Regions from separate parts of the Homo sapiens genome. Here region 1 is linked to region 2. A link means that fine-mapping ties the variant in region 2 to the expression of a gene that starts in the linked region. Tissue or cell type: whole blood. Region 2 holds a variant in brackets; the other region holds the start of a gene. All regions are shown on one strand. Distances are between the middles of the regions.

The links. PIP is the estimated chance that this variant, and not a neighbour inherited with it, causes the effect.
Region 1: S100A8 starts here. The variant in region 2 is fine-mapped to the expression of S100A8 in whole blood (TOPMed, PIP above 0.99). The same link has a PIP of 0.9 or more in blood mononuclear cells and monocytes.

Annotation. Positions count from the first base shown.
Region 1 is chr1:153,389,767-153,392,449 of GRCh38, reverse strand. S100A8 (S100 calcium binding protein A8) reads left to right here and starts at 1,377. Exons shown (of 3, transcript NM_002964.5): 1 at 1,377-1,409; 2 at 1,893-2,055; 3 at 2,207-2,418. The coding sequence starts at 1,915. The coding sequence ends at 2,347. RefSeq lists a silencer at 2,170-2,370.
Region 2 is chr1:153,366,080-153,368,762 of GRCh38, reverse strand. No RefSeq gene overlaps it. Among named protein-coding and RNA genes, the nearest start is that of S100A12, 8.2 kb to the left of the region's middle. The variant T/C (reference allele first, on the strand shown) is at 1,457.

The DNA of each region.
Region 1 (2,683 bases), 24 kb before region 2:
TGTGTTTATTTATTTGAGGAACAAACTTGCCGTTTTCCATAACAGCTGCACTATTTTACATTCCCACTAACAGTGCATTAGGCTTCCAATTCTCTATGCCCTCACCAACACTTGTTTTCTGGGTTTTAAAAGAAGTAGTAGTCATCCTTGTAGGTGTCAGGTGGTATCTCATTGTCGTTTTGCTTCATGTTTTCCTAAAGATTAGTAATTTTCATATGCTTATTGACCATTTGTATATCTTCTTCGGAGAAGTGTCTATTTGAGTCTTTTCCCCAATTTTTGATTGGTTTGTTTGTTTTTTGTTGTTGAGTTGTAGGGATTCTTTTATATTCTGGATATTAATCCCTTATCAGATATTTGTTTTACAAATATTTTCTTTGTAACAACAGAAACACACCACAGTCTTCAAGGTTGGAAGCCAGTTAATCTGAGTAGCATTTTGTTAGTGGTGGGGAGAGGATTTGTTCCTCCTGAAATCCTGGGGAATTGGCCACCTCCTCTTCTCCTCTTAGGCATGAAGCGCGTCTGGCTTCTCCAAAGAACTCTTCCCCTCCACTACCTCAGAGTTAGCTTCCTCTCTTCAGCCAGTGATCCTGGGGTCCCAGACACAATAATTAACCAAGAGAGGGTGAAAGGCTCCCTGCTGTGTTTATGCAATGGCTCAGGCCCTTGTGAAGTGCCGAGGGACCCCAAGCAGCCTCCATCTCCCAGGGCATGGTCCATCCCCAGCTTCACAGAACAGGAAAGCTGTGGAGGAGTGTGGGCAGCAGGGTAGGAATGGATATAGCCCTTGGCAACAACACATTTCCCCACAAAGCACCCACCCAAAAGAACAACAACGATAGTTTTAGTTTTTAGTAATGAGAACAATAGTTCTCATGACTAAAAGCCATCAGCCAGGACACGTGTTCTCAACCCTTTTGCGGTCTTTGGACCCTTTGAAACTCTGACAGAAGCCATGGAGGAATGTTCTCACTGAGTGCATGCACTCAAAATGATGCATTCAACTTCAATTCAGTTTCAGGGATGTATGGCCTGACCACCAATGCAGGGGATTAGCAATCGCAATAGTGGAGAGGGCATGGGAGTGGGAATCTGGCTGGATCAAGCAAGTGGATGCCAGCAGCCCAGAAAAAGAGCCCCCCTACCTGCTTTTTCCTTCTGGGCACTATTGCCCAGCAAATGCCTTCCTCTTTCCGCTTCTCCTACCTCCCCACCCAAAATTTTCATTCTGCACAGTGATTGCCACATTCACCTGGTTGAGAAACCAGAGACTGTAGCAACTCTGGCAGGGAGAAGCTGTCTCTGATGGCCTGAAGCTGTGGGCAGCTGGCCAAGCCTAACCGCTATAAAAAGGAGCTGCCTCTCAGCCCTGCATGTCTCTTGTCAGCTGTCTTTCAGAAGACCTGGTAAGTGGGACTGTCTGGGTTGGCCCCGCACTTTGGGCTTCTCTTGGGGAGGGTCAGGGAAGTGGAGCAGCCTTCCTGAGAGAGGAGAGAGAAAGCTCAGGGAGGTCTGGAGCAAAGATACTCCTGGAGGTGGGGAGTGAGGCAGGGATAAGGAAGGAGAGTATCCTCCAGCACCTTCCAGTGGGTAAGGGCACATTGTCTCCTAGGCTGGACTTTTCTTGAGCAGAGGGTGGGGTGGTAAGGAAAGTCTACGGGCCCCGTGTGTGTGCACATGTCTCTGTGTGAATGGACCCTTCCCCTTCCCACACGTGTATCCCTATCATCCCACCCTTCCCACCAGAGCCATAGCCATCTGCTGGTTTGGTTATTTGGAGAGTGCAGGCCAGGACAAGGCCATCGCTTGGGGCATGAATCCTCTGCGTACTGCCCTGGCCAGATGCAAATTCCCTGCCATGGGATTCCCCAGAAGGTTCTGTTTTTCAGGTGGGGCAAGTCCGTGGGCATCATGTTGACCGAGCTGGAGAAAGCCTTGAACTCTATCATCGACGTCTACCACAAGTACTCCCTGATAAAGGGGAATTTCCATGCCGTCTACAGGGATGACCTGAAGAAATTGCTAGAGACCGAGTGTCCTCAGTATATCAGGGTGAGGAGGGGCTGGGTGTGGCGGGGGCTCTCTGCCTGGTCCTGGGGCTGCCCTGGGCCAGCGGTCCTCCCTGCCACCCTTCATAGATGGCTATGCCTCGGCTCTCTCTGAGATCTTTAAACTCTGGCTTCTTCCTCCTCAATCTTGACAGAAAAAGGGTGCAGACGTCTGGTTCAAAGAGTTGGATATCAACACTGATGGTGCAGTTAACTTCCAGGAGTTCCTCATTCTGGTGATAAAGATGGGCGTGGCAGCCCACAAAAAAAGCCATGAAGAAAGCCACAAAGAGTAGCTGAGTTACTGGGCCCAGAGGCTGGGCCCCTGGACATGTACCTGCAGAATAATAAAGTCATCAATACCTCATGCCTCTCTCTTATGCTTTTGTGGAATGAGGTTCCTCGGTGTGGAGGGAGGGTTGGAAAACCCAAAGGAAGAAAAAGAAATCTATGTTATCCCACCCTACCTCTCACAAGCCTTTCCTGCTTTACCCCTCACCTGGCCTCTGCCCCACATTCCCTTCCAGCCCCTCCATCTTGAGCCATTGGATTTGAGGCTTAAGGATTCCAAAAAGTCCATGACACTATAGCTGATGATTTTACTAGTGGTTCTGAAATGGGTCGGGGATTTG
Region 2 (2,683 bases):
GGTATAGATTATTTTAAACCAAAGCAGACTGAGGTTATATTTAGGGGTGGCTTGGATAGTTAAAGTTGACCAGTGTAAGATAAGGAACCAAGGGAAGTTATGCAATATCTTCCTCTAAAGGCCTTTGAACTAGACCAAGCTGTTCTGCAAACTAGGCCACTCCCTTGATGCACTTACCTTGATTTGGGACCACTTCTGATATATATAGTAGTATTAGAATCTGTTAAAAAAAAAAACAACAAAAAAACCAACAACTAACCGATGAGAGCAAAAGTCCAGCACATTTGCTATTGTGAAAACATTCACCAGCTGTAATTTTGTTTCCAAATAGCCCACTGAACCACAAATTGAACTTAAATCATGGCTAGAAAAATTTTAAGGGCTGCTAACCTTGGTCAAAATCCATCAGTCAGCGGCACCTAAGGACAATGACAAGGGCCCTTGACTTGGAATCAAATGAGCTTGGTTAGACTCCCAGCTCAACTGCTTGGCTCTGTGAGTTTGGGCGAATGGCTTCCCTTCTCTGAGCCTCAGTTTTTTCATGTATATAGTGTGCTGTTTGCACAAGTGATCTCCAGTCCCTTCATGAATACACAGAGACTAGACCCTGTGACTGTGGCTGGTGTCGTGGAACAAGCAAATGAACACAAGCACTGTTAGATCCACAGAGCCCAGGGATTGGCCCTGTTGCTTCTGGAGGCCCTGTCTCACTGTCACCATCTGTCCACCCCCAGAGGCCCTATTCTCCAGCCACTCTAGAACAGTCTCTAGTTTCTCCACGGCTTTGAAACTTCTTGGGTTTTGCTCCTGCTGTCCTCTTGTTCTCTTTGTCTGAAGTGCCTTTTCATCCCTTCATTCACAAACATTTTTTTGTGTCTGCTCTGTTGCAGACACTAGGCTACCTGGGCCCTTCTCTGGCTCTAGAACACCTGCTTATACACCATGGCCTGACTCAACCGTCACATCCTCCAGGGAGCTCACCTGTTCATATCTTCCTCATGTATTTCCATCAAGAGTAGACTTTAGGCCCCTTCCAATTTGGGGCTGACCTCCCTCTTCTGCTCACTGGCTGCTGCTGGAATGATGAGCCTGACAAAGCTGTCTGGGCAAAGGCATTACTGAGTGATAAAGGACACCAATAACACTCTTTTGGGTGCTATATGTGCAATACTTTGCCCTCAGGAGGATATTTCAGGCAGGCTTCCAGTACACCACAAGCCAAGCCATGCCAGCCTGTGCATCAGGCTCTTGGAGCTCAGGAGAAGGATCTGGGCTCAACAAAATGACTATCAGAAGCCCCTGATGTGAGAATGGCTAGGTCTCATCATTTTGACTTGGCCAACACAAGAAGCCTTTCAAGTTTTAAGATAAAGCAAACTAAAAATCTGGAGGGCAAGAGCCCTTACTTCCTATGTTTCTCTGATTTCTTTTATTGCCTAACACAGCACTGGGCACA[T/C]GGAAGTGCAATTCTTGCCCTCTGAAAACTCAGCTTGGGCATTAGTCCAAGCAAGCTTTCCTTCTCTCTCCTTCCCTCTACCCCTGCCCCCCGGCTCCCCTCTACCCCCTCCCCCACACCACAGCCAATAAGACGGCAAAAAGTGCCTTCTGTACTCTCTGGGCATCTTGTGCTTATCATCTGCCTTTGCTTGTCTTTTGCCCACAACATTGTATTATAGAGAAAATATCTGGTAATTGTGCCCCCACTGGACTGAGGGCTCTGTGAAGGCAGGGAATCTAGCACACTATTTGACATAAGACCAGGCTCATCAGCCTCCTAACTGGTCCTCATGCTTCTACTCTGGGGTTCTCCAGGCTACCCTCCACACAGCTGCCGAATATTCTCCTCCAGATACATCATATCACATCACCTGCCTGATTAAAACCCTCCAAAGGCTCTCCAATGTGTTTGGGGTGAAATCTTCGTTGAGATGGCTTCTTGTCATCCAGGCCTCATTTCCAGTGTTGCTTCCTTGCCTGGCTGCCGGCCCACAAAGCAGTCCTGTTAGCATGTCCCCTTTATTTTCTTTGTGCAACTCATCACCATCTAAAATGATCTGGGCTATCTATTTCTTGACTTGCCTCTTGTCTGACTCTCCCCTAGACGCAGTTTTGTTGACCCAGCACCTATAACAGTGCTCTGCATTTAGTTCTCACTCAATGAGTATTTGCAGACTGAATAGCTGATGAATGTTGGCTTCTTTGCATGGAGCTGTTTCCTACCAGAGGGAATGAACACCTGGAGTAGAATGCGAGGGCGATGCTTGAGGCAGTGCTGGGAGAGTGGGAGGGCCTGGCAGCAAATGAGCCACACCACAGCGGGTTTGGAGGCCTTGCCCCCGGGGGTGGGCTCCTCTCCCTGGACCCTGGTGATATTTGAAGGCAGCTGTCATGGCTCCCTTGCTTACCTTTTCCAGACTTGATTCCCCAAGACCTTCAACAATTTTCCCTTGTGATTGTCTCCTTTCATTATGAGGAGTAGACTCGAAACTGGGACATCTTGTGTTTTGAGGGAGCCATTTCTGGTTAGATATGACCCGTAGTTACTTCACAAAGGTTAGATATGACCCCTAGTTGCTTCCCTGAAAGCACTCAGCCACATAGAACTGCATTTTACCACAGAGGACAGGAGGGCAGAAGGCAGTAAGTGAGAAAAAGCTCAGGGAGAGGATGTAGAAAAGGTAAA